Linked DNA regions of Homo sapiens: region 2 is linked to region 1. A link means that fine-mapping ties the variant in region 1 to the expression of a gene that starts in the linked region. Tissue or cell type: lung. Region 1 holds a variant in brackets; the other region holds the start of a gene. All regions are shown on one strand. Distances are between the middles of the regions.

Region 1 (8,096 bases):
TATTTTTAATTTTAATTTTTTATTTTTTTGAGACAGGGTCTTGCTCTGTTGCCCAGGCTGGAATGCAGTGGTTTGATCATCGCTCACTGCAGCCTCAACCTCCTGGGCTCAACTGATTCTCACACTTCAGCCTCCTGAGTAGCTGGGACTACAGGCACACATCACCATGCCCAGTTAATGTTTTAATTTTTTGTAGAGATGGGGTCTTGCTCTGTTGCCCAGGCTGGTCTCAAACTCCTGGGCTCAAGTGATCCTCCTGCCTTGGCCTCCCAAAGTGCTGGAATGACAGGTGTGAGCCACTGCACCCGGCTGGGATGTTAAGTGTTTACAACACACTTGCGCGCCTATCTTCGGAGTCCCGTAGCCCCTTGTGAGTTACTGACTGTAACCCCCTGGTTTGCACAGATGAGAACTCCATCCTAGAGGCCCAGGAGCCTGAGTGGCCTCACCCAGCCAGTAGATGGCAGAGCTGGGATTCAAGCCAAATCCATCCCACCACAAACTCCTCATTCTTTGTACCTTTGTCTTACAGGTTTGTCTAGAGTCCCATAACAGTTTCCGCAGCTTCACAGGTTGTCTGAAAAGATACTAAGCACGTGCACCGGCAGGGTGTCGGCGTTCCGCCGACATCCAGGTCGAACACTTTGTCACCAGAGCACCAGTGGGGCTGTCTTGAGTGGAAGTGCTTTGAAAAAGTTTTATGTCTGTCGGTTCAGGTTCGCTGTTATTAATGTACTCCGTGGCGTGTTAGCTGGTTAACGCTATAGCAAGCATATTGCAGCTCTGCCCGAACAGGACTTTTTATTCAGTAGACTTAGAGATGTTTGCACAGAGGTTCCCATTCCTGCCGTGAATCCGTGTGCCCGTGTGACTCCCAGGTCCACCACCGTTACCGGCACATTCTTTTTGCTAGCAATTGAAAATAGGTGGGGTAGGTGAGCCAAGGGTCTCTTGCCTGTGTGTAAGTGGGTTTTGGTGAGAACTCACTGAGAACCAGTGCTCAGTCTAGAGCAAGCCAAGGAGGGTGCTGGACTCTCAGGCCAAGAAAGAGAACACAGTTTAAAAAGCAGCATTCTGTGCTGTAATACAATTGCGTATTTTGGTACAAAAATTAGCCAGGCATGGTGGCACGCACGTGTAGTCCCAGCTACTCAAGAGGCTGAGGCAGGACAATCACTTGAACCTGGGAGGCAGAGGTTGCAGTGAGCAGAGATCGTGCCACTGCACTCCAGCCTGGGCGACAGAGAGACTCCGTCTCAAAAATCATAGTAATAACAATAATAATAATAATAATTTCCTGTTTTGGAAAATGAAAGAAAAAACCTACCAGTACTATTTTTGTAATCCAGTGGCAGCAAAGCAAAGCTCAACCAAGTGACTTTGGGTGGAGGGTGGTGTTTGGTGCTAGTGGCAGGAGGGAATCTCATGGGTGAGGAAGGGCCGGGGTTCAAGGCGGCTTTAGGGGAGGAAGTGGGGGGCATCTGCAGCGCAGACTGAAAGGAAGGAGCACAGCCTGGAAGCCAGAAAGGAGGGGATAGTCTAAGCCTGTGTGAGCCCCAAGGGTCTGGGGAGGCCGGGGGCTGGGAGAGTTCCATGGTTCCTCCCTTCTACGTGTGGGGCCCAGAGTGGAGAAGGAGCAAGCCCCTGTCTTGATGGAAACAGGAGGCCCCTTATGTAAGTGTGTGATGCAGGGAGGGTGAGTGCTGGGGAGGAGAACTGAGTGAGGCAGGGAGTGAATGATACGTGGAGCGAGGTGCAGCTTCCCTGGGTGGTCAGAGAAGGAGACGCCGCATGGGTAGAGGCCAGTTTGGAGCGAGGGAGGGCGTTCCACAGGCAACTGATGGAAGTGTTCCAAGTTGAGGGAGAAACGTACAGACCCTGGAGTGGGAGAAAGCTCCACGATTTTCAGACACAGCAAGGAACCGGTGTGGCTGGAAAGGACTAAGCCAGGGGGAGAGAAGGAGAGAGTGTGTGGTCAGGCAGGGCCTGAGGGGCCTTGTAGATGAAAGACTTTGTATTTTGGGCTGGGCACAGTGGCTTGCGCCTTATAATCCCAGCACTTTGGGAGGCCAAGGCAGGAGGATTGCTTGAGCTCAGGAGTTCAAGACCAGCATGGGGAACATAGCAAGACCCTGTCTCTACAAAAACAAACAAAAACCCTCCAGTAACTATCATGAGTATGACAGATTTACCGTCCTCTGCAATTCTGAACATAAAGCTTTAAAATCAAAAGGCTTTTTGCAAATTTGGCACCACCCTGATTTGACAGCAAAATCTCGCCTAAAGAACACAAGGCTGTTTGTAATCTATACTGATTTCATTTAGGGTGAATATTCGTACTTTTTGCTGTATACATTACATTGAACTATGTGAAATTTTTTCTGCATGTCAAAAATGGTCAAATGTGGCTGGGCGCAGTGGCTTATGCCTGTAATCCCAGCACTTTGGGAGGCTGAGGCGGGAGGATCACTAGAGGCCAAGAGTGCAAATGAGCTATAGTACTGCCACTGCACTTCAGCCTGGGCGACAGGGCCAGACCCTGTCTCTAAACGATAAAAAATAAAGGATTTGTATTTTAGGTGAACCACGGAGCAACAGAAGGAGGGTTTTGAGCAGAGAGTGCCATGATCTGATTTATGTATTACAAGGTGAATGAGGTTAGAGAGAGTGTAAGAGCCAGGGCCCAGGAGAAACGGCCCGTCCCTGTGACATAGTGCTCTGTCCAGGCTGAAGCTGAGGCTAGAGTCGCCTCAAAAGTGGCACCAGAAGAATTGCCCCAAGAGAGCACCCCAAACCACCCCGAAATGAGGCCACTTGGGATTCCAAAGAGAGAGGCACTAAACCACCAGGTGATCATCAGTCCAAAGCATTTGGGAGGGGAACTTGCACAGTGCTACGGCGAGAGAAAGGGAGGGTCTACCCAGACACGTCCGTGAGGGTCAGGGTATGGGTTTACATGAGGGTTTAAGGAATTTGGCCCAGGGCTGGGGCTGGTTTCTTTCATTCTTTCATTTTTGTTGTTGTTGTTGTTTGGGGTTTTTTTGAGACAGCGTCTCATTCTGTAACCTCTCGTACTCCTGACCTCAAGTGATCCACTCACTCTTCGGCCTCGCAAAGTGCTAGGATTACAGCAGTGAGCCACCATGCCCGGCCTCTTTCAGTGTTTTGAGCAACAACCTAAACACCTTTATCAGTGCCTGGGAATGTTCAAGGCCCCAGGCGTGGGTTAGTGAAGCTTGCAGTGAAAACAGGCAGCCGGCGGGGTCGTAGTGAGGTCAAGGCGCTCTCAGTCAGGACAGAGAAAAAAGGAGGGGAAATTGGAGGGCCCTACA[G/T]GAAGCTACCGCCCCCATCCTTGGCCACACTGGCCTTGCCTTGAGCCAAGGAGTCTCCGGGGCCGGGCCTCGCGTTGGCTCCGGGCCACCCTCAGACCTGATTTTGCCCCTGCAGTCGCCCCTGTGCTCCTCCTGGAGTCCCACTGCGCGGCAGCCCGAGACACGGTGCAGTGCCTGTGCGTGGTGAAGTCCAACCCGGAGCCGTCCGTGGCCTTTGAGCTGCCATCGCGCAATGTGACCGTGAACGAGAGCGAGCGGGAGTTCGTGTACTCGGAGCGCAGCGGCCTCGTGCTCACCAGCATCCTCACGCTGCGGGGGCAGGCCCAGGCCCCGCCCCGCGTCATCTGCACCGCGAGGAACCTCTATGGCGCCAAGAGCCTGGAGCTGCCCTTCCAGGGAGCCCGTGAGTGGCGTGGACTTGGGGTGGGAGCCACAGGAGGGAGCGGGCACGTCTTAGATCCAAGCTCCCAAGGCTGACCAACAGCCACAGAGCATGGGCTATGCAGATTGACAGAAAGGTCAAATTCTCCCTTTCCGGTTGGAGAGGAGAAGCCGCCCTGAGTTTGCCCCGAGTTTGCTAGGACCTTTGAGGCATGAGCCCCTCCCCAGGGCCCTCTAGCATGAAAGGGATTGCCCTGGCACGAGGAGGCTCCGTGCCAATCAGTCAGTGCAAGGATGCCCCGGCTGTGTGACTACATTGACTGTCATCCCAGCATGTCTCCAAAGTTCTCAGGTGTCGTCACCACCACCCATAGCCCTAAGGGCGCCTGGGTCTTTTCTGTCCTCAGATCGACTGATGTGGGCCAAGATCGGGCCTGTGGGCGCCGTGGTCGCCTTTGCCATCCTGATTGCCATCGTCTGCTACATTACCCAGACACGCAGGAAGTGAGTGCCAGCTGGGGCTGATCTGGGGATGGGAGTCTCCAAAAAGGGGACCTGGTGGGAGATGGAGGCCCAGAGTGGGTGGGGGAAGGCAGCACCATAAGTGTAGAGAAGGCAGATTCTGTTCTGGGAATGTTCAGCTGGACAGAGGAGAGAGGGTTCCTGTTAATTCCAGCCCCTGCTGGTCAGGGGCACACCAGGGCCTGGGCTGAGCCCTTTACACACATCATTTGAGACCTGTTTGCCCACATTCTATTTTGACAGCCTCCCTATCTCTAGGAACTCTCCCCTACACACTCCAGTGTGGTGGGGAAAGCCCAGGTACCCCACTGCAGCCACAGCAGCAGGTCCACTTGACGCCAGAAGCCCCAAAGATTACACACATCTGGGGCAAAAAAAAAATAGGCCTTGGCCGGGCGCGTTGACTCACGCCTGTTATCCCGCACTTTAGGAGGCCAAGGAGGAAGGATTGCTTGAGGCCAGGAATCTGACACCAGCCTGGGCAACATAGCAAGACCACATCTCTAAAAAAAATTTTTTTTTAATTAGCCAGGCATGGTGGCACACACTGTAGTCCCAGCTACTTGGGAGGCTGAGGTGGAACGATTCTTGAGCTCAGGAATTAGAGGCCAGCCTGGGCAACATAGGGAGACCCCATCTACAAAAAAACAAAAAAATTAGCTACTAGTGGCACGTGCCTGTTGTCCCAGCTACTCGGGAGGCTGAGGAGGGAAGATCGCTTGAGCCTGGGAGGTTGAGGCTGTAGTGAGCTATGATTTCACCACTGTACTCCAGCCTAGGTGACAAAGAGAGACCCTGTCTCTAAAAACAAACAAACAGACAGACAGACAGACAGAAAGCCTCTCCAGCCCCAAACCATACCCACCTGGCCCAACTCAGCTGCAGCCGTGTTTCTTTCTTGTGGCACACACACATCAGCTGTCCTGAGAAATAAATTAACCCCTCTGCTCCACATCCTGGTGGCAAGAGGGGCAGAAAGACCCAGAGCCTATGAGGGGAACCTGGAGAATCCAGGTGGGGGTCCTGAAAAACGGCAGAGCTCAGGGGCCAGGTGGCTCGTCCCCAGCCGGGCAGGGGCCACAGAGGTGGGAAGGATGGGCTGTGTGGGTAGGAGAGGCTGGTGGTTCTGAAAGGGCTGCTTGCCACATCTTAGAGATGGGTGGGAGAACTCTGAGGTCCCCTGAGCCAAACTCCTAAAACACGTGGGGGTGCAGAAAGGGAGGGCAGAGAGAGGTCTGACGAGTCCTGCCCTGCAGAAAGAACGTGACAGAGAGCCCCAGCTTCTCGGCAGGGGACAACCCTCCCGTCCTGTTCAGCAGCGACTTCCGCATCTCTGGGGCACCAGAGAAGTACGAGGTAAGGACCAGGCTCCAGGCTGGCCTGGGAACCTGGATGCCAGGGACACTGAAGGCCTGGGAAAGGCCTGTGAGGCCAAGGGGCAGGGGAGTGGGAGCGGCCTCTCACAGGAGGAGAGGAAGGACATTCCAGGGCTGGGTTGGACCTGGAGGCTGGGGAGGAGGTGCCCAGGCCGAAGCTGTGTAGGGGGCGATGGGACGTGGGGCCTAAGGGCCCCCTCCCCTCCCTGCCTGTGTCTGTGACTGCATTTCCTTCTCCAATAGTCCAAAGAGGTTTCTACCCTGGAATCTCACTGAGTGCCCCAGGAGGTAGGTTCCGGGGGCCTCAGTGTGCCCTCCTCTGGGCCCTCCTTGGGCCCTGGGGTTGGCGTGCATGTCCGTGTGTCCCTGTCAGGCGTCAAGGTGGTCTCTGGTGATGTCCGGGCCTGCCCGGCAGTGCTGGCCTTGTCTAGTCTGTCCTGTTGCAGCTCCCTTCTGTCTGTGGCCACCGTCCTGTGTGTCCAAATTCCTGTGGCTAGGGGGTGGAGGGAGGGGTGGGAAGCGTGGGGGGAACCCACATGTCACCTGCAGGACCTCCCAGATTGAGGGCGGACCCATGCAGGACCCATGGGGGGGCACGTACCAAACCAGGTATTTCCAGGAATTTGGAAAGATGGGGTCCTGACTAGGTGGTTTTCACCCAAAAAGGTATTAGGGGTTACATTGTGTGCCCTCAAAACTCCTATGTTGAAAGCTTCCTGGACGGGGGCAGTGGCTCACACCTGTAATCCCACAACTTTGGGAATCTGAGGCGGATGGATCACTTGAGGTCAGGAGTTTGAGACCAGCCTGGCCAACATGGTGAAACCCTGTCTCTACTAAAAATACAAAAAATTAGCCAGGCGTGTTGGCAGGTGCCTGTAATCCCAGCTACTTGGGAGGCTGAGGCAGGAGAATTGCTGGAACCCAGGAAGTGGAGGCTGCAGTGAGCAAAGATCGAGCCATTGCAATCCAGCCTGGGTCTCAAAGAAAAAGAAGAAGAAGAAGCAGCTTCCTGGAGAAACTGAATTTGTAGGCAAATTTCAAGTTCAGCAATGATTAACACTGGCAGAAGCTCCAGAGTGGGACCTGGTGACCGCAGGGCTCGCTGGGCCTGCGGTCCTTGAGAAAGGAGGTTCTCGCAGGGATTTATTTGGGACTGAACTCAGGAGCTCTGAGGGTGCAAACGCTCTGTCCTCTGCATTGGGAAAAGGCAGGGAGCAGGACCCTGCTAATGGGCGGTTTCCCCTCTTAGAGCGAGAGGCGCCTGGGATCTGAGAGGAGGCTGCTGGGCCTTCGGGGTGAGCCCCCAGAGCTGGACCTGAGCTATTCTCACTCGGACCTGGGGAAACGGCCCACCAAGGACAGCTACACGCTGACGGAGGAGCTAGCTGAGTATGCTGAAATCCGGGTCAAGTGAAGGAGCTGGGGGCAGCCTGCGTGGCTGACCCCCCTCAGGACCCTCGCTGGCCCCCACTGGCTGTGGGCTCCCTTCCTCCCAAAAGTATCGGGGGCTGGGGCAGGAGGGGAGTGAGGCAGGTGACAGTGAGGTCCTGGGGGCCTGACCTCCCCCTCCTTCCCAGCTGCCCCTCCCTGCCAGCACCCCCACGCCCTCATTACGGCTCCTCTCTAACCTCCTTTACCCTCATCTGTCTGGAGGGGAGCTCTGTCTGTCCGTGTTATTTATTGCTACTTCCTGCCTGGTCTCCTGCCCCCACACCTGGCCCTGGGGCCTGTACAAAAGGGACATGAAATAAATGCCCCAAAGCCAAATGCCAGTCTAGATCCTGATGCTTTCTGACCCGCCTTTGGGCAGCCTGCCATCCCACCGTCTACAGAACGATGACAGAATTTCTCCTTGCCCTCGGCTGAGCCTGGTATGCAGGCAAGGGCCCAGGGATTTTAGCCTTGAACCCAGGGCCAGTGGCCACTAAGTTGCTCCCACTCTGAGCTGGTAGCTGCGAGCTGGGTCTGGTTTGACTTATGGATGATTTCACATAAAAATCCTCATGCTGGTTTTTGCCGCAGTCAGATCAGCTGACAGCACCAGGCTTGCACTTGTACGTGGACATGACTTGCTGAAAGGGAGGGTCCTGTGCACTGGCCGCAGTCCCCACCACTCCCTATTGTCCCACACCTGGCCGGCTTCCTGCACTGAGATTACCTCCTGGTCCCTGCAGCTTGGAGTGCGAGCCACAGATCTAGGTCTCACCAGCCCGTGTTGGTTTCACCACCATCTCTCACATTCATGCTGCAATTTGCAGCGTCAGCCTTTATACATCACTACATTCAGTTCCAGAAACATTAATTAAGCACCAGCTGTATACTGAGCCCTTTCTAGAGGCTCAGGCTGTCCTGAGAAGGGTCTCCTAGGACAGCTCTGTGACGATGAGAACACTGAGACTTAGAGAAGTTAGGTGATTTTCCCAGGGTCCCAGAGCTCGGAAACGGTGTGTCCAGGCCATGGGGTTGATGCTTCTGATTCAAA
Region 2 (8,096 bases), 38 kb after region 1:
TCCAGACCAGCCTGGCCAATGGTGAAACCCCATCTCTACTAAAAATACAAAAATTAGCTGGGTGTGGTGGCGCGCACCTGTAGTCCCAACTACTCGGGAGGCTGAGGCAGGAGAATCGCTTGAACCCGGGAGGCAGAGGTTGCAGTGAGCCAAGATCTCACCACTGCACTCCAGCCTGGGTGAAAGAGCGAGACTCTGTCTCAATCAATCAATCAGTCAATCTAGGGAACCATCACCAGCACGGCCGAAGGCCAAAGGAAAACATCTGAAACATGTTATCTGGAAATGTAACAGACACATCCCATCATATAAAACCATTGTTCCCTGGGTATCCCCTTTGCAGACAGCCTGAGAGCCTCCTCTTTTTCCTGGGGCCATGGAGTCCTCGCGTATGAAGGTTGCATACATCCTCCTCCCAGTGCCCTCTTCAGGGCCTAGGTCTGCAGCCTCTTGTTTTGGGCACGCCTGCAAGGACAGTTGCAAGATGCATTCCCATGTGGAATTGCTGGGTGGAAGACAGGTGCACTTTCAGAGCTGATCACACAGCTATACTGCCGTGAAGAGCTGCACCCATTTATGCGGGTGCGGGTCACAGGCTCTGGGCGTGCCACGTCTGTGGGAAAAGCAGCTCCTCAGGAGAATTAGTGCCTTATTCCTAAAGGGAGGCCCAGAGCAAGCAGGGGCCGTTGTCACCCTCTTCCTCTGCACCCCTGCACGCATGCAGGGGAGAAGGACGAGTCTGGCTGCAGAGAGAAGTCCAGGATGCCTTCCAGGCAAAGGCTGCCAGGGAGAGCTGGCCCCTCAGTTGATTAAGGTCTCTCCTTTCTCCACCCAGATAGCCCGGAGACCATCGGCAGGCGAGTGGCTGTGGGACTCGGGTCCTGCCTCGCCATCCTCATCCTGGCAATCTGTGGGCTCAAGCTCCAGCGACGGTGAGCTCCTGCCATCCCCCACCACCTCCTCTATCCCTTGGCAGAGGCCCGTGTCCAGTTGCTCCATCTCGAAGCCTCCAGCCTGTGGAGTCCCTGACCCTCACACATGTGCCTTTATTTCTCAGTTGGAAGAGGACACAGAGCCAGCAGGGGCTTCAGGAGAATTCCAGCGGCCAGAGCTTCTTTGTGAGGAATAAAAAGGTAGGATGGGGCTGGGCACGATGGCTCATGCCTGTAATCCCAGCACTTTGGGAGGCTGAGGCAGGTGGATCACCTGAGGTCAGGAGTTCGAGACCAGCGTAGCCAACATGGTGAAACCCTGTCTCTACAAAAAATATTTTAAAAATTAGCCGGGCGTGATGGTCCATGCCTGTAATTCCAGCTACTCGGGAGGCTGAGGCAGGAGAATCGCTTGAACCTGGGAGGCAGAGGTTGCAGTGAGCCAAGATTGCGCCATTGCACTCCAGCCTGGGTGACATACTGAGACTCTGCCTCAAAAAAAAAAAAAAAAAAAAAAAAAGGGTAGGCATGAGGCAGACTGTGAAGCTGAGTGGGGAAACAAGGTGAAGGAAGGGGATAAAATGTCCTCTGAGGAGACCTGGGCTGTCAGAGGCCAGGGAAGGGGACGAGGGTTGGGGAACAGGTGGTTAGCACTTCATCCTCGTCTCCCTCCCAGGTTAGAAGGGCCCCCCTCTCTGAAGGCCCCCACTCCCTGGGATGCTACAATCCAATGATGGAAGATGGCATTAGCTACACCACCCTGCGCTTTCCCGAGATGAACATACCACGAACTGGGTACTGAGGGTACCAGGAGGGTGACCCTGCACCCTGGGAGGGAGGCGGGAGGAAAAGCTCTGTCCCGCCTGCCCTCTTTGTGCCAGGCCCATGCCAGGCACCCTGATACATGCTCTGCCTCATTCCCACTCGGCAACAAGCCTCTGGGTAAGGGCCAGTCTCCAGAAGTGGACCTGCTCCTTCAAGTCAGCAGCACACATGCCCAGTCCGTTCTTATCACAAAGATCAAGACCTCATGATACACACCCACGCCTACTCCCTCCACGCACATTTGCACGAGCTCCTACTGTGAGCTTTGGGCACTGGGGAGGCCACAGGTTTTACATAAGGGGCTGAGGTTGGGGTGCTGTTGGGGGCTCTGGGTGTTGAGAGGGAGGAGAGTTCGTGGGAGATGCTTCATGCGTGGTCGTCTATCTGCCCTGTCTCTCAGAGATGCAGAGTCCTCAGAGATGCAGAGACCTCCCCCGGACTGCGATGACACGGTCACTTATTCAGCATTGCACAAGCGCCAAGTGGTAAGGAGGGTCTCCCCAGGTCTCCCCAGAGGGGCTGTGGAAGGCTGGGGACAGGGCCTGGCCTCAGTGGTGGGTCCCACATAGGAAGGAGTTGGGTAGGCATCCGTGGTGGCAGAGGTTGGGTGTTGGAGACGGTTGCTCCGGCAGAGCTGGCCAGAGCCAGGCAGGTACCTCCAGGTCCTGGATGCCGGCCACAGCCAGTTTCCTGACACGAGGACACCCGCCTGGGCTTTTGGACCCCCGGGTGGAATGAAGGAGAGAATGCGGAGAAAAGCGGCGGTGGAGGCTGGCGACAGTGGGGCCAGGCTAACCACCATGCGGTTTTCTCAGGGCGACTATGAGAACGTCATTCCAGATTTTCCAGAAGATGAGGGGATTCATTACTCAGAGCTGATCCAGTTTGGGGTCGGGGAGCGGCCTCAGGCACAAGAAAATGTGGACTATGTGATCCTCAAACATTGACACTGGATGGGCTGCAGCAGAGGCACTGGGGGCAGCGGGGGCCAGGGAAGTCCCCGAGTTTCCCCAGACACCGCCACATGGCTTCCTCCTGCGCGCATGTGCGCACACACACACACACACGCACACACACACACACACACTCACTGCGGAGAACCTTGTGCCTGGCTCAGAGCCAGTCTTTTTGGTGAGGGTAACCCCAAACCTCCAAAACTCCTGCCCCTGTTCTCTTCCACTCTCCTTGCTACCCAGAAATCCATCTAAATACCTGCCCTGACATGCACACCTCCCCCTGCCCCCACCACGGCCACTGGCCATCTCCACCCCCAGCTGCTTGTGTCCCTCCTGGGATCTGCTCGTCATCATTTTTCCTTCCCTTCTCCATCTCTCTGGCCCTCTACCCCTGATCTGACATCCCCACTCACGAATATTATGCCCAGTTTCTGCCTCTGAGGGAAAGCCCAGAAAAGGACAGAAACGAAGTAGAAAGGGGCCCAGTCCTGGCCTGGCTTCTCCTTTGGAAGTGAGGCATTGCACGGGGAGACGTACGTATCAGCGGCCCCTTGACTCTGGGGACTCCGGGTTTGAGATGGACACACTGGTGTGGATTAACCTGCCAGGGAGACAGAGCTCACAATAAAAATGGCTCAGATGCCACTTCAAAGAACCAGTGAACTCTTTTCAGTCTGTGGAGTCAGAGTGGGGATGAGGAGAGGGGAAAGTCTTCATGGGGCCTGGGGGGAAGGAAATGGAGTCACAGTGGTTTACTGATCAAACCAGCAGATTAGAGAGTCTGGTGTCTTGTTAGGAAAAGCATACTGGCTTTGCAGACAGACAAACATGAGAACTTGAATCTTGATTCTTCGGCTTAACTAGCCCGGTGATCTTGGCAGGGCTCGCCAGCTTGCCTGAGTCTCGGCTTCTCCATCTGTAAAGTGGAGAGGGAAAGGCCACTGCCTACCACGCAGGTGGCCCACGATAGGAAGTGAGGCATCGTCTTCTATATGCTGGAGCCACATTGAGACCCAGCACAGAAGCCGAAAGTCCCCCAGAAAACCAACCTCCATCCTTTATTTGCATTTTTCGAAGAATGTGAAAAGGGGAAGCCGATTCAAAACAGCTCTTCCCAAAAGTGACGCTACCCAATTCTTGCACAACCCATAGCTGCCAGAGAAAGTCTTGAAGACCAGCCACCCTGAGAAACCTCACAGCTTTTCTGTCATTCGAGGTCCTCTGCACCCGTTCTCTAATTCTGTTCACTGATTCAGACTTTCCAGTTAGGTGCCCCAGCTCCCCTCTCCGCTTCTCGGGTTTGATCTTTCTCCACCCATTCACCTGCTTCTGCAAAGGGGCTAAAGCCCATTCTCCTTAGAGGGCAGGGGTGTAATTATCTGATCATCAGGGAGATTGGCTCCTGGCACGTGGCAGGTGTCCCCAAACTGCCACCTTCCTCTCCCACCTTCCTTTCCCTCCCATCTCTGCTCAGTACCCGGACGGTAACTCTAGGAATTATGGTTCAGGGAGGCCTTGATCGCCCCATCAATCCACTTTGTCCCTGGTTTGATTCTTGTGAGCACCATTAACTTTTCTGGAGGAAGGTGAGGCTTTAAGAACTGTTTAAAGCCCAGGCGTGGTGGATCACGCCTGTAATCACAGCACTCTGGGAGGCCAAGGTGGGCAGATCACCTGAGGTCAGGAGTTCAAGACCAGCCTAGCCAACATGGTAAAATCCTGTCTCTACCAAAAATACAAAAATTAGCTGAGCGTGGTGATTCACACCTGTAATCTCAGCTACTTGGGAGGCTGAGGCAGGAGAGTCGCTTGAACCTGGGAGGCGGAGGTAGCGGTGAGCCGAGATCACGCCACTGCACTCCAGCCTATGCAACAGAGTGAGACTCCGCCTCAAAACAACAACAACAAAAACTGTTTAAATGAGACAGGAGGGTGTTGGGGTGTCTGTGCCCAAAATGGGGTCTGGTGTCATTCAACTCTTTCTTCATTCATTCTGCACACAGATACTGAGCACCTGGAAATGCACCCAGTACAGAGCCAGTTGTTAGGACACCAAAAAGATAAGGCGTAGGACCAACCTTGGGGATCTCTAGTCGAGAGCCGCCAAGGGTTTTTAAGGCAAGATACCCTGGAGGGAGCTGAGGCAGTCCTAAGCCTGAAGGGCCTGGCTTAAGCTCCCTGGCAACCATCGAGCATCTTCCCCTTCCCACCCTGTCCCTCAGCACAGCTGCTGACATAAACCTACTACATGGCTGATTGACCATGAGATATGGCCATCAATAGACATTGCTGAGGCGTGAAGAGCAGGTGAAGAGCAGGTGGCCAGGAAGCTAGGGGGCCAGGACTCCAGACGCAGGCCGCCCTCCACAACCCCAGCTCTCACAGTCCTCCCAGGGTCCAGACAATGGATCGTGCATTTAGGTTCCCAAACACCTGCTGTGCAACGTGTAGTAGACAAAGCAGACCAAAGCCTTTGCCCTCAGGAGGCCGGCATTCTAGCTCAGGAGCCAGCCAAGACGATGTCGCACTGAAGAAAGACAACAAAAGTGAGATTCACAGGAGGGATGAGTGTGGCTGAGGCACCCGGGAAGGCCCTCGGAGAAGGTGACCTTGGGCAAAGATCCAGACGCCAGGTGGGTGGGGCCAAAGCAGAGAAGATCTGGAAAACCCAATGGCTCCCCAGGGCTTCGCTCTTGCTGCAGGAGGGGAAACCACACTGCTGTGGATTCTTCCTCCATTCTGTCCATTTCTCAGTTCCCAACAACACACTGAACAGTAGGAGGCCAGTTCTCCGCTCACAGCGGGCGCTGCACCCCAGGTGCTGCTCTCGAGAAAAAGGCGAGCATGGACCAATTTAGTGGCTCCGAGGTATGAAAAGCAGTGAGATGGTGTCTTTGAGGGAGTTAGTGATAGGCTGAGACCCCCTTGCTGTCCCCCCTGAAGCCTGGTGACCAGAGCTGCCAGGAGGCCACACAGAGAGAGGTTTATGATGGGGGACCTGGAATTCGGAAGGGGCAGAGTGGTCAGGTGACCCATACACGCCTGAGAAAACTGATGTGGAGAGCTGTGTTGTCATTCTGAGGCAGGAAATAGAGACAGACTGACAGACAGACAGAAAGACACGGGCACATTGAGAGACAGAGACAGAATCACAGAGCAGAGCTGGCTTCTCACCAGCAGGCGTGGGCACACCTGAGAGAGCATCCAGAGAGGTTAGAAATCTTCCTTAGGTCCTCCTGGGAGGCTCAGGTGACCCCAGTGGGAAACATGAAAGGCTGGGAGGACTTCCAGGGCTGAGAGAAGGAAGCTACGCAGCCGGCCGGTGCCACATTCCCTGTGCCTTGGGGAGTGTCCCCCAGTGTCCCCAGCCATGCACCCTGGGGGGAGTCGGCTTGGACATCTGTGCCACCCCTTGACAGGCAGAGTGGGGGCCACAACCTGGGCCCTCCAGTGCTGGTCAGCAGAGGCTGCCCCCGCCCCTTGCCTTCCTCCTCCCGCTCCTTCCTCCAGCCCTGGGAAGGTCGGAAGCCACCACCATGGGGCTAGTGCGGAAGCAGAGGGAGAACAGAGGGGCCCTCCTCGCAAAAACTAAAACAAGCCCACAGCCTGTGCAGAACCGCACCCGGGTGTGATCACTCCTTACCCCACACACCCACTGCCACTTGGAGATGGCTTCATGGCTGCAGTCACAGGGCACCCTGTGTTGTCAGGGGTGAGCCAGTGAGGCCCGGGACCTGCCCAGGGGTGCATCAAGGGTGGAGAAGACCTGGCCCCAGCGCAGGTGTGAACAGGCAGGAGGGCTGGGGAGGGAATAGCGCTGGGTTGTGGCCGAGCCCCCAAGCCCTGCTCTTGAGAGGCACTGGCTACACACTCGGCCCCTACCCAGACAGGACCCCAATTCCTCCCTGGCCCCTCTGTGTTCCTGCATCTTCCCAGCCCCTCACCTCCTCTGGCGTGGCCTCACCTCCAGCCGGGATGCCCCATTAGCTGCTCACCCAAGCTGCTAGAACCTCAGGCTAATGGCCCTGTCACCCGCCCTCCTCCCCTTCCGGCTCACTGCCCATCCCGGGCATCCTCCATCAGCCCGCTGAGGGGACTGCTGAGCCTCAGAGACATCTGGCAGCACCAGGAGGTGGGTCCCTCTCTCTGTGGCTCCTCTCTTCACCTGACTGTTCCCCAGACCCCCAGACCCCCTGCCCAGGTGGCCCCTGAGAACTGCTAAGCTCAACCGTGACATGGATGGGGCCTGGCTGACCCTTGGGCTCTCCCTGGGGGACCCCCTTTTCCTGTCCCTGGCCACACCCTCACCTTATCCACACCCTTCTCCTCCCTGCTGCCCCGCCGGCTTTCCAATGTGGGTGGGGGGTGGGGGCAGCTCCTGCCTTGCCAGGGAACCAGGGAGGGCAGTGGGCTCAGGAGTCAAACTCCCATTCCCAGGGAAGGCTCAGGCTGTGGGCCCAGCCCTGTTCTGAATTCTCTCCACCCCTCCTCCCCACAGAGTCTCAGAAATCGAGAAGCTTTCTTCCTCTGGGACCTGTGCGCCACATCCTATCTCCTGTGACGCTGCAGGAGCTTCCCTGGTTTTAAGAGGTGACATGGTGGAGAGAAAGCACAGGACTGGGGGCCACAGGTCCTGGCTTCTCATCCAGGCTCCGCTGCTCCCTGACTGCTGCCTTTCTCTGTGGGCCTCGTTTCCTCCCTGATCCCACCAGGTGAATTGTAATTCTCCACACAGGGCTGGAACCCGCGAGTGATCCCAGGAGCCCCTCCTCTCCGGGGCCCCAAGATCTGAGGACAGGGAGCCAGGTTGCACACAGGAGCCGTGCAGGCCAGGACGGCGGCCCCATGGACCTGCCCCCGCAGCTCTCCTTCGGCCTCTATGTGGCCGCCTTTGCGCTGGGCTTCCCGCTCAACGTCCTGGCCATCCGAGGCGCGACGGCCCACGCCCGGCTCCGTCTCACCCCTAGCCTGGTCTACGCCCTGAACCTGGGCTGCTCCGACCTGCTGCTGACAGTCTCTCTGCCCCTGAAGGCGGTGGAGGCGCTAGCCTCCGGGGCCTGGCCTCTGCCGGCCTCGCTGTGCCCCGTCTTCGCGGTGGCCCACTTCTTCCCACTCTATGCCGGCGGGGGCTTCCTGGCCGCCCTGAGTGCAGGCCGCTACCTGGGAGCAGCCTTCCCCTTGGGCTACCAAGCCTTCCGGAGGCCGTGCTATTCCTGGGGGGTGTGCGCGGCCATCTGGGCCCTCGTCCTGTGTCACCTGGGTCTGGTCTTTGGGTTGGAGGCTCCAGGAGGCTGGCTGGACCACAGCAACACCTCCCTGGGCATCAACACACCGGTCAACGGCTCTCCGGTCTGCCTGGAGGCCTGGGACCCGGCCTCTGCCG

What was found. PIP is the estimated chance that this variant, and not a neighbour inherited with it, causes the effect.
Region 2: FFAR1 starts here. The variant in region 1 is fine-mapped to the expression of FFAR1 in lung (TOPMed, PIP above 0.99). The same link has a PIP of 0.9 or more in adrenal gland, spleen, thyroid, transverse colon and uterus.

Annotation. Positions count from the first base shown.
Region 1 is chr19:35,306,427-35,314,522 of GRCh38, forward strand. It overlaps MAG (myelin associated glycoprotein), which reads left to right. Exons shown (of 11, transcript NM_002361.4): 8 at 3,448-3,735; 9 at 4,121-4,217; 10 at 5,492-5,591; 11 at 6,864-7,381. The coding sequence ends at 7,028. Among named protein-coding and RNA genes, the nearest start is that of MAG, 18 kb to the left of the region's middle. RefSeq lists enhancers at 5,020-5,521, 5,522-6,021. The variant G/T (reference allele first, on the strand shown) is at 3,333.
Region 2 is chr19:35,343,994-35,352,089 of GRCh38, forward strand. It overlaps FFAR1 (free fatty acid receptor 1), which reads left to right and starts at 3,909. Exons shown (of 2, transcript NM_005303.3): 1 at 3,909-6,845; 2 at 7,212-8,096. The coding sequence starts at 7,559. CD22 (CD22 molecule) reads left to right here. Exons shown (of 14, transcript NM_001771.4): 10 at 836-932; 11 at 1,058-1,133; 12 at 1,609-1,727; 13 at 2,158-2,242; 14 at 2,573-3,368. The coding sequence ends at 2,704. MIR5196 (microRNA 5196) reads left to right here and starts at 1,520; the gene lies at 1,520-1,634. RefSeq lists enhancers at 2,401-2,650, 2,981-3,080, 3,681-3,760, 6,174-6,223, 6,264-6,403 and a silencer at 5,039-5,239.